Regions from separate parts of the Homo sapiens genome. Here region 1 is linked to region 2. Evidence: fine-mapped expression QTL. A gene starts in region 2. The other region holds a variant in brackets. All regions are shown on one strand. Distances are between the middles of the regions. Region 1 overlaps ZMIZ1 (zinc finger MIZ-type containing 1). Region 2 holds the start of ZMIZ1 (zinc finger MIZ-type containing 1).

Region 1 (14,026 bases), 220 kb before region 2:
TGGCAGCCATTCATTTGTGCCACTTGGCAACGACCAGGCTGCTGTGCTCCTGGAGCCCTTGGGGGTGCCTGCACCCTCACTGCATGCTGTCGGGGCCCTGGTGAGCCCATCTTCTGAAGGACACTGAGTCTCAGAGAACCTGAGCAACTTGCCCAAGGCCCTGCAGCATTGATGGCGGAGCTGCGGCTGCAGCTGCAGGTGTTTCTGATCCCTGTGTTTAACCACCAGGTCATATAGCTGTGCCAACCCCAGGCCAGAAACCCAGCCAGGGCTGGTGAGGGCTGAGGCCAAGGTGGGGGTCTTAGGCAGGGCGGGGTGGAAAGAGGAGAATGGGCACCTCTGCTCGCCTCACACCACTCCCCAGAGCTCCATATCCTGGGAGTCCCTGCCCTTTTCTTCCCAGCCAAGGGACTCGCAGTCTCTGCATAGTTCTGCTTTCACCAATCAGCAAGGCAGAGCAGATATTCCCAGACTGCTTCACTGTCTTTGGGCAACTGGACCCCATCTATACCTGCTCTTCGACTTTCCCAATCCAGATTTTCTCAATATTTTCCTATTCATTAAAGACAAAATTTAGAGAAGGGTTGTTTTGAGGTTTTGAGGAGTAAGAATGTCACCTCTCTATTTCTACGAGTCTGACGACTGTCAGAACACAGGCCAACTGCTGCAGCGCCTTATCTGCAGGCCAGCCCTGGGAGCCAGGGATGACTGAGCCCCTTCAACTCATGTAACAACAGAGGATAACTTCTCAGGGCAGAAAGCGTGGAGCTGGGATTTAAGTGGGTCCCTCCCCACTGGAAGGAGGAAGAGGGGTGGCGTCCATGGCTTCTGCCACAGGTCAGCCCTGCTCACCTGGCCCCAAAGCCCCCGCTGCCGGGGTAGTTGGGCCGGCCATACATGCTCTGCTGGATGTAGGGCTGAGCGGGGCCAGCCTTGGCTGAGAACTGCTGCTGCTGCCCCGCAAACTGTGGGGAGTTGAGGCCTGGGTTGCTGGTGGTCATGCCCGACGCCATGGGGTTGCCGCCTGGATTCATGGGGTTGTTGGCATTGGCCATAGGGTTCCCAAGGACCTGTGGGCAGAGAAGTGGTTGTCACCTAAGGTGCTACCCGAGGCAGTGTGGAGAGGAAGAGGGATAAATGAAGAGGGGAAAGGGAGAAAGAACAAAGTGGAGGCAGGACAACAGGGAGGAGGAAAAAAATGGAGGGTGGATGAACTATTCTGAGTGTACCGGTGATAAGGAGCGGGCCTGGGCGGCAGGTGGCGTGGGGGATGAGAACGTCAGCCTTGTGATGGAACAAGCTGAGGGTATGACCAAGCCCCACAAAGCCAGTTCAAGCGGTCCCCAGGGGCTGCGCAGCCCAGTGAAGGGAGAAGAGGCTGCTCTTGTACCAGGTACCCGTGGGGAGAGCCCTGGCCATGAAGCCTACTGCCCCACAAACGAGCCTGGATGCCAGCGTCTTGTCACACAGGGGCCCCAAGGCCCCTGGCTGCTGCTCTGTGAGGGCCAAGAGGAACCCACCCTGCTAGCTCTGGAGGGCAGCAGGAGCAGGCGACAACCGGTCAGCCCAGTGGCTCCCTCCAGGGTGACAAGCAGCCCTGAGCCTTCCATGTAGCCACAGAAAAGGCTGGCAGAGGTCAGACAGGTGGGAGACTCCCTGACTGGGCAGAGGAGGAGTGGAAGAGAGAGGAAGGAATGAGAGGGAGGTGGGTCTGACTAGGGCAATGGGGAGTAGGGAGTTGTCAGAAGTCCAAGGCACAATATTTTGATGAAATCCAACTCAGGCCATACATCCAGGGTCAGAGACCTCAGACCTTGGAGCCCTGAAGCCAGTAACACAGAGGAAGTTCTCCTGTTTACCAGAGCAAATGGGCTAGGGAAGAACCCCTTGCTGTCTGTCAGATGAATGCCATTCCTCCAGAAAGGCCTTAGGATGGGGACAGTCCATAGAGGCTGCCCTCCTGAGGCGGGTGCAGAGCCTGCCAGGGGTGGAGACGTGTCCACAGCTGGGTGTGCCCTGGAAGCTGGTCTTTCCAGCAGGGCAAGGCCTGTGAGGGTGAAGAGGGCTGGTATGGCTCCAGGGGTCAAGGGACACTCCCGCCTAGAAAGAGCTGTGGCTGAGGGCAGTATAGGCTCTTACCTGGCTCTGGGATGTGTTGGTTACTCCCCAAACCGTGGTGACCACGGAAAGGGAGCCGGGAGGCTGGTTGGTGTTCTGCTGCCAAGGGACAGAGTCATAGGGGAACGACCCATCACTGCAGAGGGAGACAGAGGGAGATCTTCAGGGCCTGGCAGGCACAGACTCAAGACAGGCCATGCCCATCACCCCACCAAGTGACCGCAGCTCCCAGTCAGTCCAAGGTAACCCCCATCCGAGTCGGTACTGGACCCCCCAGGCCTGTCTCAGTGCCCAGTGCACAACAGTGTGCCCTGCATGGTGACAGGCTGTTCAGAAGTGGCCACCTTTCCCCCGATCACTGCAGAGAGCTACTTCCATGGCTGTGTGTCTCCCTGTATCCCCGAGTCCACAGGTCATGCAACTGATGAAGTGGTGTGACCTGAGGCCCAATCTGAGCTCCTCCTTCACCCGGGCTCTGACTCCACGTTGCCCTTTAGGAAGAGCCTGGGCTCCCCCAAACCACCTTACCCTTGGAACTGCTTGGTCCCTTCTCAGTACAGGCTGGAAGGGTCCGAGTCTGAGGGTGTCAGCCCTTCCCTCTACCTCCCAGCCCTTCACAGCAGCCTGGCTGCCTGGGCCATGGGAATGCAGGCTTTCTTCCGGCACCCTTCCTTCCCAGCCCCCAGCAATGTGGGTACAGGCCTACCTGCTGCACACCCTCTCCTGCCCCCACCCCGATCTCTCATGTACATTTTCCCCAAGCTAATCTCCCTCAAACACCTAAGATGCCTGGCACAATCAAAGACCTTTGGTGGCTTCCAGCATTTATAAGGCAGAGTCCAAACACACACTTAAGAATGACTTACTCCTCTGGCGGACCCCACCATTCCCTCACCCCGCTTTGGCTCTGTCCTCTCGTGGAGCTGCCCCTGCCCCTAAACACTGCCTCCTCTCTACCAACCCGGACCATATTTCCCCTCCTCCCCTCACCAGGTCCAGCAGTACCCACCACGTTTGTGGACATCTCCCCAAGGAGCTCTCACGTATCAGAAGCAA[G/A]GAGTTAGCCTTCAGCCCCACCTCTTGTGCTTAGGTCTACAGTGAGTGTCCAGTGATGCTTCCTACCGACTGCTGGGGTGCACAAGAGTGAGGCCAGCAGATCCCAGCGAAGGGGCAGGGCATGAAGACCTGCCAGGGTGCCAGCCCCCAGGAGGCTGGGGATGAAGCTGCCTCTCCCACCAGAGCCGGCACTGGCTCTCTGGCACCACCCCCTCACCAAGTCACAAAATTCTAGATGTGGAACCAGGAAGAGCAGAAAAGCAAAGCGCCCACAGCTGTGCCACTGCCTCTACCCAGGGCACAGGGTGTGTGTGTGTGTATGTGTGTGTGCGTATGTGTGTTGGGGGAGGGAAATTGGGAGAAGGGCCGGGCAACAGGAAAGAGCCTCATGCCTCTGTCTGGCTTGTGTCTGTCTTAGTCACAGGAGACAGCAAATGGCAAAGGTTCTCAGTCACACCTGGCAGACTTGTACCCTAGCTGAGTGGCCAGTCCAACCCTAGCAGCCAGGGCAACTGGGGATGGAGGTGCTGAGGAGGCACCTCTGGGGATGCAAGGAGCCCAGCCCAGAGGTGAGGACTTCCCAGAGGGAGGCGGAGGGCTGCATGACCCGCAGGCAGCGGAGATCAGGGCAGCCAAGTCTTGTGCTCTGTGCCTTGCCCGGCTGAGCTCTTGGCAATGCTGGTCAAGTCTGACGGGCTCCTGCAGAGGCGACCAGCCTGGAGGGCAGGACCACACCACTGTCTGCTCATACTTGCCCCTCCCCTGCCTGGATACCCTCTGCCCTAGATTTCTCAGCCTGGCCAGCCCCTCGCTTTCTTCCTGTCTGAGATCGCTGGAGGGGCCTCCCCCGCCCTCCTCGTATAAAAAAGCAGCTCCTACCCGACACTGCCTGCCCCCTCACCCTGGCACTGGAATTTTTTTCATAGCACTCCACCACTGTCCTAATTATATATTTTTTTGATTATTGTCTGTCTGCCTCTAGAACAGCTCTGTGACGGCAGAGACTTTTGTGCTTAGGACCCTGGTGCAAGTTTCCTCACTCAATCTCCTCATCTGTAAAATGGGCATCAGATGATACCTCCCCACTCTACTCTGTGTTTTCCAACTGTGGGTTACAGAATCTGAGCAGGTGATGACATCCAACCAGCAGGGGAGAAAAAAGCATCAACTAGAAAGTGATGGAGTGTGAGCACACAATAAAGATGAAGATTAGTCCTTGAGCTTCTGTCTTGGTTTTATACACAAATACATGTGCACCTTGGGTCAAGGTGTCGTATGTGTATTTATCGTGGATCTTGGTCAAATAGGTTTGAACACAGGTTCAGCAGCCTAAATCTGATGTGGCTCAAAGAGGAGAATGCAGTCAAAGGGCTTTCCCAACTGAGCGCTGCTCGTGATTTCTGGGGAAACTGCAGGACTCGCATTTGGAGTAGAGGAGCTGTACTCAGGGCACTCAGTTGGCCAGGCACAATGATGGGTAGTGGCTTGTTGAAGATCCAGATGCTTGGGCCAAAGGTGACAGATAGCGACAGACTCTGCTCTCCAGGTGGCGGATTGGAGACTGGGAGCCCAGAGGGAGTGGGCAGTGCAGAGAAACACAGGAAAGTAGCCATGAGCCTGCTCCTCAGGAAGGCTGGGCTGGAACAGCCTCTGTCTCCCAGGGAGGTCACTGGGGACCCGGCACACCACCTGGTTCCAGACTGGCACACCAGAGTCTCACAGGGAGGCTCTACAGGTCACGCTTTTACAAAACAAAGAGGAGATCCCCTGGACACCTGCTGTCCTCAAGGCCCATGTCCTAGGTGTGCTGGATGACCAGAGGGGGTCCCCTACATCTGAACAAAACCCAAGCCTGAGTGGCTTCTCGCCCCAGAACTTCTGCCCCACAAGTTCCCACCAACCCTCCAGGCTGATGGCCTTGAGACGGAAGTTCCTATCCTTTGAGAACATGCCTGGCCAGGCTCAGGAAATGAACCCCCATGGGAGGCCCCAGGGGCCGGCAGGGCCCTGCCTGTGGCCAGGGAGTGGGCAACTGCTGCCTCATCACCTCAGCCCAGGACGCTACACAGGCCCACGAACAAGCTCCCAACTGCCCTGCAGCTCCGTGGGTGAGCCTTGTGGGCGGAAACCAGCTCCTTCCTGTTTTGTCCCCTCTGCCCCAAACTTGGTGAGAAGCAAAGCTAACCAACGTTCCCAAACTGGCCATCCCACTGCCTGGCTGGAAGGTTTGCCGCCCCAGAGCAAAGATGCACGCAGGCATATGGAGGACACATCCGTGCACACACGCGAGGCCCTGCTGGCATGCTGCCCGTGCACTGGGGAAGAGACAGGCACAGCGTGTGGGGCAGTCTCAGGACTAGCTTGCCTCCACACGCACCTGCTGCAGAAGCAGAAGTGGCAGCCGCACCGACAGGACCGTGACTCATCTCATTCTGGGGGAGACGGGCTCCTGCTGTCGCAGAGAAGGCTCTCGCCCCCGCAGGCCCCCACAGCAGCCCTGCTGATGTGACGCCACTGCCTAGACTCAAGATACCACCACCGGGGGAATGCCTGGTCCCTGTTCCCAAGGATGAAGGACCAAGCAGACCCCTGGGCTGCTACCAGAAAGGCATGGCCTGGCTGGGATGGGAGGAGGGTCTGGAGGGTGCCTGAGAGCCCTTCTTCTCTCCGACGAGCACAGTTTAACCTGCAGACTTGCTTCACCTGGTCACAGGTGCTTGGCATTTTTTAATAATTCTGTCCCACTCTGTACAACCCTAATCCAGCATGGCCTGCCCAGTATCACACCATAAGCTGCTCCCAGCCACAGTCCTGTCCAGCCAAAACGGCCCCAACAATCCTGCTCCACCCACAGAAGCACCAAGGCCAGAAGCCATCTGCAATGTCAGCAGCAACGGTTCCATTTGCCAACTGCTCCCTAATACAGGGGCCTCTGTGCCTCTTCTCAGGCTGGCAAGTTCCATCCCACCTTGAAAATGCCATTCATCCTTTCCAGGCTCTTCCAAAGGCCACCTCCTCCGGGAAGCCCTTGCAGAAGGTACTGAACTCCACTGGCTCTTCGCATTCCTGGCAAGAGTGAGAACCCTCTGCCTTCTCCCTTCTGCCTCAGGAGCTGTCACTGATTTCTTGGGCTCCCTGAGCCAAGCATGATGTCTTCACACACCAATAGGGCTCAGGAAACCTTTGCTAAACAAAAAAATGTGCCAGGGAGAAACCACCTCTCTGCACTCACCCTTGGAGTGATGCTGAAAATGAATATGTCCATTTCGTTAAGCCTGATGACCGACCACCTACACAGTGTGTCTGTGGCCACATGGCCACTGGGGCCCAGAAAGTGAGAGAAGGACACAGAGGGAAGCGATGAAACCACTGCTCACTCTCTGTATGCCTCAGCAACCTCATCTATGAAATGGGGCTGATTCAGCCCCTCCCTTCGAAGGCTGCCGTGAGGGTTAAGTGTAAGTGCCTAACATGTATGAGGCCCAGAGTCCCGCACACCTTGGACACCCTGAAACTGCTGGCTGCCGCTGTTACTGTTGTTCTGATTTACTGAGTGACTTCTAGATGCAAGGAATTTTGTGAAGTGGCCTTCACCTAAGAACTCATTCAGTGCCCCATTAAGTGGGCCCAACAGATGCCCATCTTAGAAGCTGGGGCTCACAGAGGTAGCAGAGCCAATCAAGGGCAAGGCTGCCGGGTCACCAGACCGTATCAGGCTCACCACTGTCTTAGGAACTTAGGATCCAGCAAGGCAACGCTCCCCTCTCCAGAGATGGCCACGAGGCAAGGGAGCACACTGCAGAGGCCACCTAGAAGCCACAAGAATTCCAAGAAGGGCTGCATCTTCCTGGGGGTTCTTGGGGAAGTCGCCTAGCACGAAGGGACAGGGGAAATGTAAAGATGGGCCTCAAAGCCCAGCTGCAGAGAAAACCCAAATAGTCTTCCAGGAAAGAATTTCTTTATACACTAAATCGTCTGCTTTAGCTTGTACTGGCCGTGTTGGCAAAGATTCAGGGACCCCTTTTTGAGGTTAATATTCAGCCGACAGAGGGAGGCCCAGCAGGAGAGAGGTTCCCTATGTGGGCTCTGGAGTTACAGTCTTCCGGGTCAAACCCTGGCTCTGCCACTGAAGCTTTCTGTGGCCTTGGACATGTTACTTTCAGTCAGCCTCAACTTTCTCATCTGTAAAGTGGGACTAACACTTTCCTAAGAAACATGAGAAAAAAGTAAAGTTTAGCACAGAACCTGGTAGAAAGACCCTGCTCAACTGTACTTACACCTTTCTCTCCAGTCCTCCAACCAGCCATACACAGCTACCCCTGTTTACTTCAGGATACAATGAAAGTGGCCTAGGAATTTTTCAAATATGCTACCAATGGGAGGAGCCGTTTTCATTCCTACCTGTCAACTAGAAAAAATGTGCTTCTCAAGCCTCTGAGACTTTCTTCATTTTTCTTCTGCCTTCCCTTCACCAGCCAGCAAACTTCTATCCATACTTCAAAGCCCAGCCTGCATACTCCCTTTAAGGACCCTCCTAAGCAGAACCAAGGACACTTTCCTCTGTTCCCTCAGCACTTTTTTCACGTATTTTATAGAGAGCTCTCTGCACTGCAGTCACAGTAGACAGTTTACATGTCTGTGCCAGCTCCACGGGCAATGATCGAGGTTTTGCTGAATGTGAGAAAATGAGCAAGGCCTGGGATAAGGCAGTGATGATTCCTGGCTCCTGTGCACCCGCTATGGCAGCATCTACACACACATTCATGAAAGGAACGCGGGGGGAGGGCTGAGTTATTTCTTCCCTTGCACTTGTAATAGCTGCTTTATTTGGGAGAAATAACCAATTTCCATTAAGGGTATTGTCAGACTCTAATTAATTTCCCTGATCCAGCCATACTGGTCCCGTCTCCGTGCAAGGCTGTAGTGTTACTGCTAATGAAATGCCAAGCCAGTGAGGAGCTGAAGCTCCCACCCTGTTTAATTTAGGGGAACCATTAACAGTGTTCTCCATCATCACAATTACTGGGGCCTACTTCCTTCCCTCCCTGCGGTGAAACTTAGGAACTTGTGCAGCTAACTGCATATTAGAGGGTGTTAAAACTTTTTCAGTAGGAAGGAGGAAAGGAAAAAATCCTTTGCATCTTGGCCATCTGGAACTGATGGTGCAGGGATTTATGGGTCTTTCAATTCTCCCCTTTCCTTCTTTTTTTGTTTTTAAAATGTTCTTGGGGCAACAAAGCCCTAACATAAACTGAGCTTTGGTGAAGCTATGCAAAACCGAGCTAAAAATGGCAGCTGTGGAGATGGTGTGATGTGGCTGGTTTTGATTGCCCCCTTCTTTCTTGTTTGGCCATGAATAAGCACTTAAGAATTTGATGGCACCTGGCTGAGGATCAGGGGAATAATGACTGGTCCATGGGCTCCCAGTGTGCCAGGCTTGGCGACAAGCACACCACTCCTGCCACTGTTGTCACTCCCCTTCTACAGATGAGGAAACCGAGGCACAAGGAGGGTAAGTAACTGGCCAGTTACCCAGCTAGAATATGGCCCAGCTGAAACTCAAGGCCCAGCAGCCTGGCTCCAGGGCCTGTTCCCCGACCTGCTATACTCAGGGGATGCCAGGGGCCCTCCCGCCCAGAAGCCTCTCTGTTGGGGTTCATAAATCCCGCACCTATAAGAAGGAGGAAGGCACCTCTCAATCTTGGAGGCTTCCCCAGCCCTAGCGAGTTTTGACTGTAATCAAATTAACAGCATAAACAAGATTTATTAGGCCTTTAATTACCTTTGCAACACTGATCTGCATAAGGACAATGTGCTAATCACAAATGGCTTTTTAAACCACTCATTAAAAATCTGGAAGAAGGAGGTTGAAAGACTTCACTGGCTTCAAGTCCAGGTCACTGCAGGGACTTGGAAGGTGCCCTACTTGCCCAGGCACTGGTCCTGGACCTTGCCAGGCCTCTCTGGCCACCTTCTCTTGTATAGTATCCTGGGTATCTGTGAGTATAGACGGCAGCCCCACTGCAGCCAGTGATGAGGACAAAACAGGGAGTGAGCCTACAGACGTCCACAAACTGAGGATAATTAGTATTCCTCGTCACCACCCTTACCCCCAGATATAGCTGCGGGGCTATGGCAGCCTGACCCTTTCCTGACATCCTGCTCATGCGGCACCATGTCCCCCATCAGCAGGGAACCACGAGGCCAAGAGGTCAAGGGTCTTGCTGGGAGGCACAGCATTTGTGTGGAAGAAAGCAGGCCCTGACTCACAGCCTCATGCCGCAGTGCCAAAGCTCTGCAGCCTGCAGCAGACATGATTGTGACACCCGAGCTCTCCAAATATGACAGTCACCAGGGACCCTCCAGGCGTCTGCCGTCCCTCGGGGCAGGGCGGGGCTGCAAGTGTCCAGGCTCCCTCATCCTCTCCCATTTGTTCGTCCTCAGAGCCTTCAGACAAAGACCCAGAGCCTTCAAACAGCCAGATACCTGCGGGCATCAAATCTCAACTGTCCCAGCTCACCCAAGCTCACCTCCAGCTCAATGTCGCCTTAATGAAAAGGCAAAAAGAGCTTCCTGCCTCCAAGCCATTCAATAAAATTATGGAGGATGACGGACTAAAACAGTTTGCTAATTGTGAAAGCGCTCAGCTTTCTCTTCCATTTTCTTTCCGTCTTGTTTGGGAAATTGCACTGAGGACTTATGAGGTGTTGGACCCCGTTGCAGTTTCCCTGGAAATGAGGGATTTATCCTTTGTGAAATTCCTAAAGGTTGCAAGGAGAGACTGTGTAACTTTCAATTGCCTAACCACAACGTGTCCTCAGAATAGCCTGGGGCTTGGAGAAGGAACACGGGCTATTAAATGGGAAAAAGGTGAGCTGTGGATCAGAACAGATGACCCTCTTCTAAAAAGACCCTCCAAATTGGGTTAACAACGAGATACCACCTCGTTGACCCTGAAGGACCAGCTAAATAGCACAGCCCTGTGCGCTGTTTAATATCTTCCTCTGCCCTTTACTGGCTGTGTGTTCTGGGGCAATTCACTTTCCTACTCTGGGCCCAATTTTCCTTCCAGTTCTGCCATTCAAAGTGTGGGATGTTGTCTAGCAGGCCCTCCACCTCCCTGTGCTCCCACGAGGAAGCCTCGCTCCACGGAACCGACTGGTTAGCCACCAGTACTCAGCGAGTCTTCCAGCCCACACAGCTTTCCTTTCTCTGACAGACCACTTATGGCCCAAAGAGTAAGTGCCAGCCTGGTCTTCAAGCTCTCAGACCACTGGCTTTGCATTCTAGGTCATTCTGCTGGACTTACAGAGAGCTGAGGCCATGGTGATGGAGGCAGCAGGGCACTGGGTGCTGGCCAGTGGCTCTTCGGCCCATAACATTTCTTGGGAAAGCCAGCTTGAATTCATAGAATGCAACTACCCCTCCCAGCCGAAGTCCTTCAAGTTCAAGACTCCCATCCTCTGGGCAGCCTCCTGACAGTCAGCCCTGTCCATCTTCCTCCATCTGAACCCCAAAGCCCAGTCTGCCTGTCAATGAACCCTAGTCCTGCCCTGCTCTGCCAGATTCCAACGTGGCCCCAGTGAGTCTTATTTCCCCAACTAGCTTGAGGCTGCTCCTCGAGCACAGAAATACCTCATCTCTGTTTAACCCCGGGACCGAACAACCTCATGCCTTAGCTCAACTCAGCTGGCAAAGGGCTGGCCGAGATCCAGATTTGTGGCACTCTGTGACCTGAACAATCACGGTCAAGCAGGTCTGAGGCTGGTCCCTAGTGGGGAGCTGCAGGGCTCTGGCCCACCATAAGCAACAACTTTACTAAAATAACTTGGAGGAGAGAAGCTTGGGAAGGTCATGACACATAGGATGATGAGAGGAGGATGATTCTGGAGGGATGGACGGCTGAGTTAGAATTAATAAGGTAAAGCTTCCCGAGGGCAACTGCAAGGTATGCTGCTTAAGTGAAATGCAGCTGCAGCCTGTGCTCAGCGGCTTGGTTCAGATGAAGACAAACTGTGGCTTTTAGCAAAGGGTACACAGAGGGAGGTGGAGGCAGGTTTTGTCTTTTTAGAGCAGCGGTCCTTAACCAAAGGTGAGACTCAAATGTGGGAGGGTACTTTTATTGTGATAATGCTTAGGGGAAGAGGGCAGTCATCAGAAGAATGGGGTGGGATTAACCAAGCGTGGGCATTAAAAAAAAAAAAAAAGAACAGAGTGGGTAGGGACCAAGACGCCAAATGCCCTGCAAAGTCCTGCACCAAGAAAAATTACCCCTGTGTCAGACAGGTGTAGTGGTGCATGCCTGTAATCCCAGCACGTTGGGAGGCCAAGGTGGTAGGATTGTTTGAGCCCAGGAGTTCGAAACCAGCCTGGGCAACATAGCGAGACCCTATCTCCACAAAACTATAAAGAAATAGCCAGGTGTAGTGGTGCATGGCTATGCTTCCAGCTACTCAGGATACTGAGGTGGGAGAATCGCTTGAGCCAAGGAGGTCGAGGCTGCAGTGAGCTATGATAGTGCCACTGCATTCCAGCTTGTCCAACAGGGTGAGACCCTGTCTTTTAAAAATAATAATAGGCCGGCATGGTGGTTCATGCCTATAATCCCAGTACTTTGGGAGGCTGAGGCAGGCAGATTCCTTGAGCTTAGGAGTTCGAGACCAGCCTGGGCAATGCCATCTCTACTAAAAATACAAAAAATTAGCCATGGGTGGTGGTGAATGCCTGTGGTCCCAGCTACTTGGAAGGCTGAGATGGGAGGATCACTTGAGCCCAGGGGCGGAGCTTGCAGTCAGCCGAGATTGCGCCACTGTACTACAGCCTGGGTGACAGAACCAGATCTTGTCCAAAAAAAAAAAAAAAGTAATAATAATACCCCTCTCCCTCCCCCTCTCCCCTTTGCACGGTCTCTCCCTCTGATACCTAGCCGAGGCTGGACTGTACTGCCGCCATCTCGGCTCACTGCAACCTCCCTGCCTGATTCTCCTGCCTCAGCCTGCCGAGTGCCTGGGATTGCAGGCGCGTGCCACCATGCCTGACTGGTTTTCCTATTTTTTGGTGGAGACGGGGTTTCGCCGTGTTGGCCAGGCTGGTCTCCAGCTCCTGACCGTGAGTGATCTGCCAGCCTCAGCCTCCCAAGGTGCCGGATTGCAGACGGAGTCTCGCTCACTCAGTGCTCAATGTTGCCCAGGCTGGAGTGCAGTGGCGTGATCTCGGCTCGCTACAATCTCCACCTCCCAGCTGCCTGCCTTGGCCTCCCAAAGTGCCGAGATTGCAGCCTCTGCCCAGCCGCCACCCTGTCTAGGAAGTGAGGAGCGTCTCTGCCTGGCCGCCCATCATCTGGGATGTGAGGAGCCCCTCTGCCCGGCCGCCCAGTCTGGGAAGTGAGGAGCGCCTCTTCCCGGCTGACATCCCGTCTAGGAAGTGAGGAGCGTCTCTGCCCAGCTGCCCATCGTCTGGGATGTGGGGAGCGCCTCTGCCCCGCCACCCCGTCTGAGATGTGAAGAGCACCTCTGCCCGGCCGCGACCCCGTCTGGGAACTGAGGAGTGTCTCTGCCCCGCCACCACCCCATCTGGGAGGTGAGGAGCGTCTCTGACCGGCCGCCCAGTCTGAGAAGTGAGGAGCCCCACCGCCCGGCAGCCGCCCCGTCCGGGAAGTGAGGAGCCCCTCCCCCTGGCAGCTGCCCCGTCCGGGAGGTCGGGGGCAGCCCCCGTCCGGCCAGCCGCCCCGTCCGGGAGGTGGGGGGCAGCCCCTGTCCGGCCAGCTGCCCCGTCCTGGAGGTGGGGGGCAGCCCCCGCCCGGCCGCCGCCCCGTCTGGGACGTGGGTGGCGCCTCTGCCCGGCCACCCCGTCTGGGAAGTGAGGAGCCCCTCTGCCCCGCCACCACCCTGTCTGGGAGGTGTACCCAACAGCTCATTGAGAACGGGCCATGATGATGATGGTGGTTTTGTCGAATAGAAAAGGGGGAAATGTGGGGAAAAGAAAGAGAGATCAGATTGTTACTGTGTCTGTGTAGAAAGAAGTAGACATAGGAGACTCCATTTTGTTCTGTACTAAGAAAAATTCTTCTGCCTTGGGATGCTGTTAATCTATAACCTTACCCCCAACCCCGTGCTCTCTGAAACATGTGCTGTGTCCACTAAGGGTTAAATGGATTAAGGGCGGTGCAAGATGTGCTTTGTTAAACAGATGCTTGAAGGCAGCATGCTCGTTAAGAGTCATCACCACTCCCTAATCTCAAGTACCCAGGGACACAAACACTGCGGAGGGCGGCAGGACCCTCTGCCTAGGAAAACCAGAGACCTTTGTTCACGTGTTTATCTGCTGACCTTCCCTGCACTATTGTCCTATGACCCTGCCAAATCCCCCTCTCCGAGAAACACCCAAGAATGATCAATAAATACTAAAAAAAATTAAAAAAAAGAATTAAAATAATAATAATAATAAATAATAATAATAAAAAGAAAAACTACCCTGTGTAAATGCACTAAGGAACACTGCTACAGAAGAGAAGCTTGGAGCTGCTCAGCAGCCAGACCCAGGATCTGAGGAGGCAGTGCCCTTGGGTGGTGGTGGGCTTGCGATGGTACAAAGGGCTTATGACCAAGGCAGGCAACCACATGTCAGGGGCAATCAGGCCCAGGGAGGGCACTGGACATGATGAGCACTAAGGTCCTTTCCAGCTCAGAAAGTCAACAAGCCTCTAATTCGATTTATAAAGCGTGGCTGACACCCGAGTTCCCAGCAGCACCTCGATGGTGCGACCCAGGTCTGCCTGCAGTGTGCTCTGGGCTGCGGGTCCCTCAGTCAGGCTGGATAATGAGAGCCGAGCTCTGACTGCAAATGACCCTCC
Region 2 (14,705 bases):
CCGAAGAGGGACTACAGAAACCATAGGAACCCAAGGAAGAGCACTGGGCTTCATGGGGACCCGGGGGGCTGGAAACACCTCTGCCTCCTACTCCAGAGCCGGAGAAGGGCATGAAGCCCCATGTATAGACCTGTGTGCCCTGGGCAGTCAAGGCAGGATTTGTGTCTCGAAGCAAGCTCTGGCTGTAAGACACTGTGCCAAAAGAAAGGGACACAGCTACTGGGGGCATGGACCATGTGCTGCCATATGGGAGGGGGAAGACAGGTGAGGCCCATCTGTGACCCTTCCTGAGAATGGCTCCTCCTTCACCTCATTCCCCCAGCACCCAGTTTTGGAGCCTATCCTGACTCTGCACCGTGTCCGAGCCTGGCTGGAGCGCTCACTCAGTGGACTGGAAAGGAGGCAGCGCAGGGGTTGGTATCGGTAAGGCCTGAGGTTCAGTCCTAACTTTGCCACCAGTTGTTTGACCGCTCTGAACCTTGGTTTTCTGCTCTGTTAAATGGGGATAATTCCAAATAGTAACTAGCTTACACTGTTGTTATTGGGGATAAACAAAGATGGAAAAAGCTTCTAAATCCACCAAGTACCATACAAAGGAGAGGGGCTGTGGTTATTACTGTCATCACGCGCCCGTGGCAGGCAGCCAGCTGGTAGCGGTTAATTATTTATTTGGACTGATCTTCCTGCCGGCACTGGACTGTGGGCTCCTGAGGAACAGGAACTGTCTTCCACAGTTCTGGTCTCTCCCAGGACACAGTCTTTATCCACAGGGTGGACACTCACAGTCAACACCTGTGGCACCCATGCCGGGCCCGACCCAACCCCAGCCCTCATCACGCACCCCCTTCCTTCTCATACCCCGCTCCAAGGAAAGTGCCCAGAGGCAAACCTGGCACACAAAGGCAGATGACAGTGAGCACCCCCAGGCAGACCCTTCCCCCTTCTGCACCCCCCACAACAGGTCATTCCCAATAAGGGCTAGAAGCAGCCACTTGAATGTGTCCCCCTACCTAGGGGCCTGCCTAGGCACTGGTCTTGAACCCAGGATCATTCAGGAAAGAACGAGTCTATGGTCTGGAGGGCCCCCCAGCATCTCAAGCCCAGAGTGGGGTCAGGAGGTGTGGATTTGCAGAAGGCATGTAGCAGAACATGTTAACACTCACAACTGCCCACTGAAGGCAGAGGCTTCCAGGAGGTAATGAGTACCCTGTCCTGTGGGGGGCATGCAAGCCAAGACTGGACAATCAGCTGCCAGGGAAGTAGGTCTGGATGAGAGCAGCTTCAGCAAAATGCTTCTAGCACTTGCAATCTAAACCCTTTGTGTTCTACCCATTCTGTACCCAGAGCCTCCCAGGCCTTCAAGGGACACATGCCTAGGGGACTCATGCCCACATCTGCCTCATTCTCCCAGCAACCAAGTGGGATCGGAGGAGTTCTGCCCTCAGACCCATTTTACAGATCAGGAGACTAAGGTCCAGCACAGGAGAGTTACTGGCCCAACACAGATAGCAAGCAACAGCCTCCTGACACCTTGGTCCTCTCGCCCATCTCCTCCGGTAATAGGGAGACCCTCTCAATCATGATGGGGTCTAGCCTCTCCCCAGAGCCTATGCCTAGGACTGCTTTTCTCAGCCTTCTCCCTTCATCCTCTCTAAAGGCAGGGCCCAACCTCAGAACGCCCCGGAGCTTACAGCCAGGTGGATTGCTGCCTCCCCATCCTGAGGGACTCTTAAGGACAAAGAGCACTCCCCCAAAGGGCATGAGCAGAGAGCACTATATCCTGCTAAGAGGTCAGAGCTGTCGCCAGGCAAGGCTGCAGCAGTGTCCTGGGTAATCGTGGCAGCCTGGCCTTTGTTGTCCACACAAAATCTAAGGAGCCTCATAAAGACCAGGCAGCAGTGACAGGGGCTGGGCCAGGGCCCTGGGGAGCAAAGTTATGAATGAAAATGTAGAGGACCCAGCCACGAACCAGCAGGCCCTGCTTCCTGGTCCCACGACCAAGTGCCTACAGAAGCTTCTGGAAATTAATTGGTTGGTGCCTGAATTTCTTACAACAATGCCTCACCCTGAGGCCAGGGTCATGGCCACTCGTTGGACCCTCAGGGTCAGTGGCTTTATACGCAGGTATTCTTGTGACAAAACTCTCAGGATGCAGCAGGCCTCAAAGTGCCTTCCTTCCTAAATCCCTTCACCCCTCCCGCCATCAGGAAGAAACAGGAAAAAAAGTGAAGTCTGCAGCTCTTCTCAGTTGGGTCCTTGCCCCTGCAATTTTCTGGAATGAGTCAAGCATGGACACCTGTCCTATGTTGGAGGCATATCTATGGGGGCCAGGGATGGAGACATCGTTGTTATTGTGGCTAGGGAAGTGAGTGTGCGTGCGCGCGTGCGTGAGGGAGAAACTGGTTCTGTCGCCAAACCCCGCAGTCTCTGGACCTTTCTTCATTTTGCCCCTGGCTGTGAGAGGAACAAGAACCCTCCTCCCCCCTTTGCTTAGGAGGGAAAAGGGACATTTTGTCCCCACAAAGAAGCCAGCAACCCTTTTCTGCATAGACAAGGCTATTTATTCATAAGTCCAGCAATTTCTTATTCCCAACTCTTCTCAGTAAGCCCTACCCAAAATGCCAAATCCACCTCTTGAATCCACTCCCTACTGCTCCCTTCTCCTCCCCCCACCCAGCCCCCACCCCCAGTCACTGCCACCAACTCTCAGAAGTCTAAACTTTTGAGATTTACATGTGAAAACAGCGTTTCAAAACCTCGTGATTTGGGACAAGGAGACGCTTCTGTCCTTTGGGGGAAAACAAAACCCAACCGAAAATCATAAAGCTCAGAAGAAAACACCATCTCCCTCCAAATGCATTCCCTGGGCCCCCAACTCACACGTGCTCTGTAGCAGATAGGGCTTTCAATGTGTCTTTTGTTTGATGCTGATGTTTCAACATCCTCGACTTGAAGAGGGAAAGGTCAGCCCAAGGCTTGGGGTATTCACAAACCCACCCGGCCCCTGCACTGGGGCCAGGAGCCAGCAAGTGAGGGGCCAGGAATTTCCCCCACTCTGGACCCCCTCACAAAGCAGCCGGGGCTGAGAAGGCTAAGAAAGAGCTTGCTCTCTCATCTCAACTTCCCCGATAGCTCAACAGCAGCTTCACACTCCCGGGACCGTACAAGCGCCAGCGAACGCAGGCTGGAATTCACCAGCGCCAAGCTGCCCGGCTCTCCAGCCCCGGCGCCTGCCTCTTTATCTGTACCTTCAAAAACAGTAATAAGCAAACCCAGGCACCTCTGGGAACAGCCTCTGGCCTCCTGCCCTGCCCTGTGTAACCAGCCTGTCCTCACACCCACCAGGGAGGAGGAGTCGGCACTGGTTAACCCTCTGGTCTACCAGGCCCGGTTCCCAGGTTGCAGCAGGGAGACAAACTGTTGCTCAAGAAAATCCTTCAGAAAACCCTTGGCACCAGGAGGCAGCTCGGAGCGGCTCTGCACCCGGCGCGGAGCCAGGGGCTTCCACAGGCGGCCGCCCACTGCCCTTTTAAATCTTTGGGGCTGGGCCCTACTCTCCCATGCCCTGGGCTGTCCACCCAGAGGGCTCCAAATGTCCGTGGCAGAGCAGAGAGGAGGGAAAGGCTGGCCGAGCCGTGCCCTCACCCCGCCAGCCCAGCCGCCAGCTTCTTGGAGGACCTCTGAGAGAACATTTGTTTGGGCTGCCAAGTTAAATCTTCCTCCCTCATGTCAGGGCATTGGAAAAGCAGTCAGGGGAGAGGAGAAGGGGGAGAGCGCGCGGGGGAAGGAGCAGCGGGAGGGAGGGAGGGAGGGAGGCAGGCGGGCAGGCTCAAAGCCCCAGTTACTCGGGCACTGCCTACCCAGGAAGCTGACGGCTCCCGGGCAGGCGCAGCCGGGGCTCCGGGCACCGAAGCAGGGACCCGGCCGTCAGGCCTCCCCGGTCAGGCAAGGGTACCAAGCACCCTTGGCCCACCTGGGAGCGGCCCTCGCTCTGTGACCTGCTGGAGGGACGAGGTGGGAAGGGAAGGCAGAGAAGGAAAAAGTTTGCTGCAGGTAGAGGGGTAGGGCTGGGCGGCAGTGCCGACCGGCTGTCCCCGGGGAGGGGTGGGGGGCCCGGACCGGCTGCCCTGGCGCGCTCCCGTCCGCCCGCCCTCCCGCCCGGGTTGTTTACATTCCTGGAGTGTCTTTTAAACCCGGGGCTGAGGCCGGCTCCCGGCCTTCTCCGGCGGCTCCGGGGCAGTCTCCCGTGAAAATCTGCTGGCGCACAATGGCCGGGAAGGCGGCCGCCCCTCGCCCGCGCCCCCACCGCTCCAGGGCGGGGAGCCTGCCCTCCGCACCGCGCCCTATCCCCGCCCGGCCGGCTTCCTGGACAGATGTCCCCAGCGAGGGGGCGACGCGCGCCCGCTGCCCGCGCCCTAGACGCCGAGGCCGCGCTCCCCACTGTTTTTTCCCCAGCCCAGACGCCAGGAATGTGAAGCAAGCTTCCAGAACCCGCCTCCCCCCCCCGACCCCGGCTCCAGCCCCGGCCCCCCAACCTCCGCCCCGGCTGGCCTCCCACTCCCCCGGGGCCACCGCCGCCGGAGACGGAGAGGAAGAAAGAACACGGGGAAATTACTTTCGTATTTGCAACGCGCGCGCGCACACACACGCACATCTTCCCCCTGGGCTCCCCTCCTGGCCGGGGCAGCCCCGTCCAGGCACTGGCCTGAGCGCCCCTCTGGCTTGCGAAGCCCTGGGAGAAAACCCTGCACACACACCTCCGCGTTTCTCGTTTGTACCGCGCGCCAGCTTTCCCCGGGCAATTCCCACACAAACAACTTAACCGCGCCCCCACCTCCCATTTACAAAAGTGTATGTTTTCCCTGGAAATTCAGACGCACAAGTTAACACCACCACCCCTTGCCATCCTGAAATCCAGCGCTTTCCCCAGCGGTTCCTGTACACACACAGGCGCACAACTTCGCATCTCCCCAGAGGAGGCGAAGGAGACCGAGGCGGTCCTTCCCTCCCTCCTCCGATTCCCGGTCCTGCCCGGCCCCCGGGTGTAGGGAGCGAGGGCTGGAGGCGCGCCGGCAGGAGGCGGGCACCGGGTCCGCGCGCGCACGACCACACTTACGCCCCGCACACCCTGACAAACCCGGCCCCCACGCGCAGCCCAAGCCGGCTCCGCGCAGCCGGGAGCTCGCCGGCCGCCGGGCCTCGGCCCCCGGCCGCCAAGGAGAGCGGAGCGGAGCCCGCGCCGCCGGCCGGTCGCCCCGCTCCGGGGGACACTTTAAGGGAAAAACCCCAGCACCCAATCCCCACGCTTGCACCCCGAGAGTCCCCGGGGAGCGGGAGGTAGCCCCGGAGCCAGCGGGCGCCTGGCTCTGGCCCCAAACTTACCGGGCGCTGCGAGCGCCGCTGCCGCCGCTGGAGGACGCGCCGCCGCCACCGCCGGGTAGGGCAGGCTCGGGCCGGGAGGAGCGCAGCGAGGGCGCCGAGATCCGCTCGGCTCCGGCTCCTGCTCCGCGCCGGCTGGGGCTGGGGTCACCGCGCTGCGCCGGCGTTGCTCGCTCGCTCGGCCGCCCGATCGCTGCTCGCCCGCCTGCCGCCCGGCCGCCCGCTCTCCCCGGCGCCCGCCGCCGCCGCTCGCTTTTTTAATGTCCACAGACAGTGAAAAGGAACTCGGCGTTAGGGGGTGAGTAAGTGAATCAACTCGCCCGGAGCCGAGCAAGTTGAAGTGTCAGATTACATTGGCTATTCTATTTCCAAAGGGCCCCGCGCCGCCGGCCGCCCGCAAAAGCCGGTGCGGAGTCAGGCCGGAGTGGAGCGCCGCGCCGCGCCGCCGCCGCTGCCGGCGCTCGGCTTGGCTCGCGCTCTGCGCTCTCTTTCCCCTTTCCTTTTCGCCTCTCCTCGTTCTCTCCCTCGCCTTTCCTTTCCTTTCTCTTCCTCTCTTCCTCGCTCCTCGGTCTCGGCGCTCTCCCAGCTTTTCTTCTCCTGGCTCCTGGTTCCCCGCTACGCCACCAGTCCACTCACCTCTCTCCTTGCCCTACTCCCTCCGCTACTCCCTGACGCCCCCTGCAGCCCCCAGCCCCCCTGCAGGCCCCAGCCCCAGTAAGTTTGGAGAGGGGAACAAATGCTGAGCCTAGGTAGGGACCACCTTGGGGAGGAAGCCAAAATCACACTGCTCACCCGAGAGCCCCTGCCCCGCGCTGGCACGCCCCCGCCTGGAGTGCACTCGTGGCCCCGGGCGCTGTCAGGTACCCGAATTGGGGTAAGCGAGTTGGTAACTGGACCTCCAAAGCCTTCCCCTGGGGTTGACTTTGGAATTGTTCCTACAGCCCGGGGACTGGTGGTTGGGGTGGGAAGAGGACCACCACCACCAAGGGTGACTTTGAGGGAGACTAGAGCGCGGCCCCCCGACAGCTGTGGGGGAGCGGGGGTGTGGTGGCCACAGTTGATCCGCGGCACCTAGCACAGTCCAGAGACGCGTGGATTCCCCTAGGCCCGGCGCGGAGCGCCCGGGGCGCTGTGCGCGCGGGCTGCGTGGGAGCTGCTAGGCTGGGGCCTGGCCCTCTGCCCCGGACTGGGCACTGCCAGAGATAGCGGAGAGCTAAGGTACTCACGAGGCGCAGTTGGGTGCACCCACTCGCGGGAGTTCCCCTAGCCGACCCACCCCCCCCCCCCGAGAGCATCCAACTACGCGCCCACTTTGGCTCACGTCCACTGCCACTCTCACGGAAACTCCTACAAGAACGGCACACACGTTCGCTCCCTCAGCATTGCAAACACGCTCCCCCCCAAACCACAAACGCGCCCCCACACACTCGCTTACTTTCCCTCACAAAGATGCCCGCTTACACGGCCACAGCAGGCACGCTCAGAGACACGCAGTTACACACACACATCGCTGTACACAACCCCACATACAATCAAAAAACAAAACACGAAACGTTCCCCTGGGCACTAAATCCTCACGTTAACGTACACACACAAACACACGCCCTCCTCTCCCACTTCCTCTTCCATACCCCTTCCTCGAGGCCCCCCACCCCTGATTTTCGGCACCCCCAGTCCCAATCATAATTGGCGCCCGCGCAGCCCTCTTTGGACACACACGCGCCGCCCACGCACGCGCTCCCCTCCCCGGCAGGCGGGGGCGGCTTCGGCCGGGAGCCGGCGGAGCCCGCTTCGGATTCCAGGTGTGGCAGTGACTCCGCGCTCCACGTTTTGCAGGCTGCCACCGTGTCGGAGGCGAGGCGAGGAAGGGAGCTGGAATAACAAAGGCAAGTTGGGGAGAGCGCAAGGGGGCGCAGCCCCGGCCGGGCTGCGGGGGGAGCCTTGCACGGCCGGGGCTTCGGAGGCTGCAGGGTCGGGGGCGCGGGGAGCCGGAGGTGGGGGAGGAAGGGTGGGGGGAGAGGGGCGGGGCTGAGGCGTGACGTCAGAGAACAATGACACCGCCGGGGGGCGGGCACCCGGAGGCGGCCCAGGCGGGGGTCTCCCCCGGGGCCTGGGGCGGGCCGAAGATGTCCAGGCCTGGCCGGAGCCGCCTCCTGATTGACGAGGCCCGCATGGGAGTGCGGACGTGCAGCACAGATTTGCGGGTCTCCTGGGCCTCTTGGGCGGTGATCAGCGCGGACCTTGGGCCAACCGGGGAAGCAGGCCGGAGCACTACCCCCCACCCCCATTTTAGAACATCCTTCTGAGGGCTTCGCTGACCTCGGCTTGAACTCCTTCAGAGCCGGAGAGATCACTCCTTCCACCACCGAGGGAGAGGAGGCAAAATGAATTTGCCAGCTTTGAATTCATTCTCAAGGCTCCGCTAGTCTCACAGCCAGTGAACTCAGTCTGGAATTCCTGAAAGCTCAGAAAACTGCTGCTTAGGTCCACCCGGGCGTGGGGGACGGGGTGTGTGGGGGCGCAGGCGGCGGAGTGGGGGCGTTATTTTATTTTCCCCAGGGGAAATTCTGCCTCCCTATGCCATTGGGTGCAAGAAAAGGCACTCCTTTGGGGCCTCAGTCTTCCTACCTGTCACATGGACATGGACTGTGATGACTGCTGCTCTTCCACCCCCGCCCTCCCTGTAGGTGGCAGCTGAGCATCCCTGGAGAGGGTGGGTGGTATGAAAGCACTTCCAGACCTCTAGGGACACCAGGGAGTCATGGTCCCAGCACATTGCTGTGTGATTGAGCCCCTCCTCAGCCTGTGGGTGGCCTAAGTTCACAGGTAGGTACACCAGGGCCACCTGAGAAACCTCCGAAGGTAGGAATTAAGCTTGCAGAACGGTGGCTGCAGCCACAGCTGTCCCACTCCCAGCAATCCACAGCATTGCAGCAGTGGCAGCAGCCACCCCATACCCAGGTCCAAAATCCCAAAAGAGAGTTTCTGGGTATTTAAGGATTTGGGATGTGATAATCCAGCCCAGCCCACAATTAGACCAGTTCTTGTTGCCTTAATGACCAGCTAGGTCTGGACGCCCAGCCCTCTCAACCTTTCTGTCCAGATTCCTCAATAAGTATCCAGGGCCTGCCCACTTCCAGGAATTGGGGGATGCAGGTGACCTCGGAGGTGACCACTCATGTTCAAAGTCTCCTGTCCAGAAGCTCCACCCCCTACCCCACATCCCAGCCCCCTACTCTCCCACCAGTATTTACATCTGAAACCCAGGAAGTGGCTGCAGAGGGCAGAGGAGCCAAGTAGGCTCAACTTAGTAGCATGGAACCAGGGATCATTTCAACCCTCCCCTTCTGTGCAAGCATGGCAGCAAGTCAGAAAGCCCACCAGGGTCCTGGGTCTTCCCTAGGCTCCAGTCCTTGGGTCTCTGAGGCCCTTGCTCTCTTTGTTCATCTTCCAGGGAGGTAATGGGGTAGATTGGATACCTCTGGGGTCTTGGAAGAAGCTATGACTTATTTACTGTCTACTATGTGGTGAGTACTGTGGTGGGTCCTCCTAGGTATTGAGAATTCAGTTCCCTGATTGAACTGTCACATTGTCTTAAGTTAGGTGCCGCTACCATCCCCCTTTCAGAGGAAACTCAACTGTGAATGACTTGCCCAAGATTGGTCAGGATGGGAACTCGGGCCCCCATGAACAGAGTTTCCTGTTGTCCCCTCAGCCCTGGCTCTGTTCATCCATAGACTGTGTAGCCCCAAGCAAGCTGCTTTCCCCCTCTGAGCCCCTGTAAGGTCCATGGTGCCATCAGGACTCACTGGGAACTGTGTGTCCAACAACCTCACCCCCAAAGTCTCAGCCTCACTGGGCCTGGAGATCTGCTGGTGAGACAAGAGAGGACAGTGCCATCACTTCCTCGTGGCCCAGAGCTGGAAGATGCATCCTGCTCAGCCCCTGCAGGCCCAGAAGTCACCTGGCTCCACTAGGAGGGCATGGGCAGTGTGGGGCCGCCAGGTTGTACCAACCTTCAGAGCACACTCAAGTGCTGTTAATTTCCCTGTCCTGTGGGAGCCACCAGCAGATTGGGGAGAGGACCATTGCTGGGGCCTGGGCCCAGGTTTCAGGAGGCAGAAAATCTGGAGGCCAGCAGGATGGTGGGGGTGGGAGGCTTGAGGTCCCTGAGGGAAGCAAAGGACTTGTGTAGGGTGCGGCGAGTATGGCCTCCTAGGCTGGGCTGGGATGGGGGCGGGTACACAGTGGGGATTCCCACCTGTCCAGGAGCTGCCTTCTCTGTCCCCACTCTCCACCTCTCACTTCTGGAACTTAAGGGAGCCAGGGAACATCTAAAATTGAGACTAGAGAGGTGGGAAGAAAATCTCATTCATTGAGTACTTACTGTATGCCACGCACTTTGGAAACATTCGTTGTATTCTCTCCACAAGCCAGGTGTCATTCCCTGCTAAGGGAAGAGGCTCAGAGAGGTTAAGTGACCTGCTCAAGATCTCATAGCTGGCTGAGCATGGTGGCTCATGCCTGTAATCTGTGCACTTTAGGAGGCCAAGGCAGGGTAGATCACTTGAGCTCAGGAGTTCGAGACCAGCCTGGGCAACATAGCAAGACCTTGCCTCTACAAAAAATACAAAAATTAACCAGGCATGGTGGCACATACCTGTAGTCCCAGCTATTTGGGAAGCTGAGGTCGGAGGATCACTTGATCCTGGGAGGCTGAGGCTGTAGTGAGCCATGATTGTGCCACTGCACTCCAGACTGGGCAACAGGGCATGACCCTGTCTCATAAAAACGAAACAAAACAATAAAGATCTCAGAGCTGCTAAGTGGGTGGAGCCGAGATTGGGCTCCAGGTTGGGCTGGGCCTTGAGGTTGAGAATAGGGACTTGCCCTCATCTCACTGCCAGGTTATGGTGCAGATAAGGTAACCTACCAGGTACTTTGGGGTGAAGTAAAGACTCTCACCCACTTGCCAGGGAATGACCAGGGTGCCTCCCATGGCAGTGAGGTAATGGAGATTACATTTAGAGTTCACCCCTTGGTGGATACAGGAAGCATTTGGGCCCTGCCCAGCTCTGAGCCCTGTGCCTCTAAGAGGTGAGTGGTTGGGTCAAGCAGGGAAGATCTATGTCCTTCAGCGAATTAGGCTCCCCTGCTCTGCCTCCCCCTCATTTCCAATCAGATGGCCCCTCCATTCTCTGAGCCCACACCTTCCCATCCTCCAAGGCTTGACTCTCCAATGTCCTTCCCTCAAGCCAGCCGTCTTCTCACTTTCTACCATGGAGTTCTGCCCTATGGTTCGAGACCCAGTTCAACCACCAACCCCTTCTTCAGATGGGAGTCACAAGAGAATAGGCTGGGAGCCTGCCTCAGGAGCCGGGACACCTATGTGCCCAGCCCGCCATTGCCTGACTTGCTGTGTGGCCTGAGCACATCACAAACTCTCCCTGTGCCTGTTCCCCATCTGCCAAGTGAGAGAGTGTGGGATATCCACCAGCACTTTTGCCTCTGATTGTCCTAAGATTCTGTAGGTCTGAGCCTTTAACCCTTGGACTGAGCTACAGTTCACTTTAGAGTTTGAGGGCGGCCCTGCTTTAGGGAGGGCTTTCAGAGGGGGCCATTTAGTGGAGTAGGGACAAGAAAATACCTGGAGGGAGCTGCTCAGAACTGTGACTATCTAGGACTGTGAATAGGTAATGACCCTAACGCCTCCCTTCATGAGGCACCTCTCACCCTCTGAGCCTCACAACAGCCCTTTTGTGGGTGACTAAGCTGAGCCCCAAAAGGAGGTGATGGCTTTCCCTGACTGCACCACTGGGAAGCACCAGAGCTGGAACAAGAGCCAGGTCTCAGCCAGGCATGGTGGCACATGCCTGTAGTCCCAGCAACTCGGTGGGGGGACAAGAGGGGGTGCAAGAGCCACATCTCCTCATGCAGTGTCCCCTCACCTGCGTCAGGGCCCCTCCAGAGGAGCAAGTACATGCGGCACTGATGAGGAAGTCTGGGACAAGCGACCTGAGGAGGACCATGCCTCCCACTTCCTTCCTGATAGCTCCTGCACCCCGAGAGGGGTGGGGGAAGGTCTCAGATCCTCAGCATCTCTCCTCCTTCTGGCTGTGCAGTCCTCCAGCCTCAAGACTCATGCTTCCTTGCCCTCACCTCATCCTGTGGCCATGCAGGGTGACTTCCAGAATTGCCAGCATTATGTACATACTCTTACCTCTGTGCCATTGCTCATGCTCTTCCTACCTCCTGGGACACACCCCTCCCAGTCACCAAGGCCACATCTGCAACCACTTGCTTGGAAGCCTACCCTGATACCTCCACCAGATGTGCCGTCTTCCTTGTCTTAACCCCCATATGCTGCTCTCCCAGCCTCCAACATCAGCATAACCATAGGAATTACTTGTGAAGTTCCTGCTATGTTCCAGGCATTGAGTAGCTCATACACATGAACTCCTCCCATCCTCTGAGCTATTAGTATTCTCATTTTACAGATGAGGAAACTGAGGCACAGGGAGTTTCATTTCCTAGTATGACACCTCACAGGCTAGGGAGGTATTGTGTTACATGGCCCTCTTCTGTCAAGGCTGCAGGTCATAGGATGGCTCACTGCTACATCCCATCACCCAGTGCAAGGCCTTGGGGGCTGACAGGCCATCCGGAGCAGGGGAGGTATAGAGGCCCACAGGATGGAGGATGACCAGAACCAGCCCTCTGGGGGCTCACAGTCTCTCAGGAAGGACTGCCCACACCAAATGCCATTCTTTTTTTTTTTTTTTTTTCTTGAGACAGAGTTTTGCTCTGTCGCCCAGGCTGGAGTGTGCAGTGGTGAGATCTCGGCTCACTGCAAGCTCCGCCTCCCAGGTTCACACCATTCTCCTGCCTCAGCCTCCCGAGTAGCTGGGACTATGCCACCATACCCGGCTAATTTTTTGTGTTTTTAGTAGAGATGGGGTTTCACCATGTTAACCAGGATGGTCTGCATCTCCTGACCTCATTATCCACCCGCCTTGGCCCCCCAAAGTGCTGGGATTATAGGCATGAGCCACCGCACCCGGCCACCCAATGCCATTCTAAGAGTTCGGGGAAGAAGAAGAGTTGGCATTGAGTGGGTCCTGGAAGGCAAGCTCTGGTGGGGCTGTGGGGAAGCCAGAGTGGGGCATGGACCTGCCTAAGGTCACACAGCAAGCAAGTATGAGACAGCAGCAGGGCTGGGACCTGGAGCTCCCAGTGTATCATGCCTTCTTGCACCTTGCAGCCAGCTGTGGGGCCCCTGCGACTGTGCTGTTTTCAAGGACACACGGTCCCAGATGCCTCCACAATTCTGAGCTGTTCAATGAGTGGCTCTGGTCCTTCTCCCCCCTCTATTAAAATGGAAAAAAGAAAGAAAGAAAGAAAGAAATCCAGGCATTGTTCCTGACTGCAGCTGGTGCCAACCAGAATCCCACTGAACAGAATGGAGCCGAGAGCCCGGCTGCCCAGGGGCCTGGCTGCTGACACAGGGCCTTTCTATTTTGCTTTCCACTGGGGGCCCAGGCTGACGGTGCAGCCCCTCCACGGACACCCTCTCCACCTGCCTCCCTGGCCCTGGCTCTGAGCCTCCTGCTGCCTTCACCCTCTTTGCAAAAATCAGATGGCACTTGGGGGAGGGTTGGAGGAGCACCCCCACCCCCTGCTTTCCTTCTTCATCCACTCACAGCCTGGGGTGCGCTGGGCCTCCCTCCCCGCCAGCCTGTCCTCCCACCCTACCAGGAGGGGACTTGGGATGCTTGTCTGGGAGAGCGACACAAATCCCTCTTCCAAAATCGTTTGAAACACTTGTCTGATTCTAGGACATATGAGGATTTTCCACCCCACCCCCACCTGACTTGGCAGGTGCCAGTCCTCAGCTCACACATTAAGGCCTCTTGCAATAGTGAAGGTCTTGTGGGGGAAAGGGGAACATGATGAACAGCTCTACAGAGACAAAAACAGTTTTTTAAGTTGCTAGTTTGCCTTCTGCCTTTGGTCTTAGGAGGAAAAAGGACTTCTCCAACTCTCCCTTACCATCTTCATTTCATCCTCTGCTTCCTGCCCCTTTCGTGAGCTGTCTGGTACTCAGACCTCCTCTCCACAGGCTATTGGCTAGTTTGACCCAGATTACCCCAAGCAGCAGTTCTAAGAGAGCAGCATCCTGGCCACTGTCCAGTGTCCACCAGGGACCCTTGGGTTGGCACTGCCACCACAGCCAGCTCTCCTGGCACCCCCTTCCTCCTGTGGACACAGCTCTTTAGTTTGTAAAAAGTACTTGACGTCTCACGCAAGTGCCACAGCAGCCTCAAGAGGCAGGCAGGGATTGCTAACCCACTTCGTAGAAGAATAAACTAAGGGTTCAGGAGGCATAATGGTTTGGCCAAGGTCAAAGGAGGTGACAGAGTTGGGATTTGAACCCTGGTCTCTTGATTCCATGTCACTAAGCTGCAGTGGGGACTCAGGAAGTGACGGTGTCAGAGGATGACATTCCCAGCCCCCACCACCTCCACCCGACCAAATGCTGCCAGGAGACAGGATCTCAGACACATCGATTCCTTTAAGGAATATTTATTAAATACTTGCTGTATGCCAGATCTCCAACAGTGAACAAAACAGATTTGGTCCACACTGCTGCAGAGCTTATATTCTGAGACAGACACCAGACTTCGTGCAGAAAGATCCCCCTCTTCCTAGTTGCCCAGCCCATATGTCCTAGAAGGAACCGTGAGATGGGCAGCCAGAGACATAAGTTCTAGTCCTAGCATTGCCCCTGACTCTCCATGTCACCTTGGACCGAGTTTTCCACCTGAGAAATCCAAGCATGTGGCCCCTCACACATTTTCTCAGGTCTCTTCCCTACTCCCAGTCTCTGGGTCTAGTGGTTCATGATTTCCCGGCATGAATTATCCTGATTTAGTTTTTTTTCTTAAACCCGACTTTTCCTAGGCTCTTAGAGCCAGAACAGGGCTTCTGAGATCATTTGCTCTGAGCCCTTCACTAAGAAAGAACCCCTTAGCCTCGTTCCTGCCAGGAGGAGACTGTCTTTGCTTGTACTCTTCCAGGGACGGGCTGCTTGCTCCCTCACATAGCAGACCTCTGCCAGTGGTGTGCTGGTAAATGTTTAACAGCTGGCTCCCCAAAGTGGGGAGAACCTGGTTTGTAGTATTTGCCGATGTCTACGGTGTAAATACCCCCACCATGGCCAGTTTCAAGCTGCCGACCAGAGCCAGCTGGCACAGCTGGTTGGTTCCATCAACCAGCTCGCGCAGTTCCTGAAAATTTAACAATCGGCCCTTGTGAGCCATATGAAC

Evidence for each region.
Region 1: its variant is fine-mapped to the expression of ZMIZ1 in whole blood (INTERVAL, PIP 0.95).

The regions. Positions count from the first base shown.
Region 1 is chr10:79,278,003-79,292,028 of GRCh38, reverse strand. It overlaps ZMIZ1 (zinc finger MIZ-type containing 1), which reads right to left. Exons shown (of 25, transcript NM_020338.4): 9 at 2,140-2,254; 10 at 853-1,070. Among named protein-coding and RNA genes, the nearest start is that of PPIF, 62 kb to the left of the region's middle. RefSeq lists enhancers at 4,757-5,407, 5,242-5,861, 5,408-6,058, 6,272-6,461, 6,912-7,031, cis regulatory regions at 5,186-5,686, 5,195-5,695, 5,211-5,711, 5,309-5,809, 6,297-6,797 and a silencer at 12,174-12,343. The variant G/A (reference allele first, on the strand shown) is at 3,175.
Region 2 is chr10:79,059,948-79,074,652 of GRCh38, reverse strand. ZMIZ1 (zinc finger MIZ-type containing 1) reads right to left here and starts at 5,687. Exons shown (of 25, transcript NM_020338.4): 1 at 5,383-5,687. It overlaps ZMIZ1-AS1 (ZMIZ1 antisense RNA 1), which reads left to right and starts at 7,205. Exons shown (of 10, transcript NR_024431.2): 1 at 7,205-7,265; 2 at 8,067-8,205; 3 at 8,834-8,906. RefSeq lists enhancers at 1,868-2,371, 4,677-4,726, 5,928-6,773, silencers at 4,927-5,906, 6,167-6,236, 7,037-7,246, 7,347-7,396, 7,437-7,646 and a cis regulatory region at 5,369-6,054.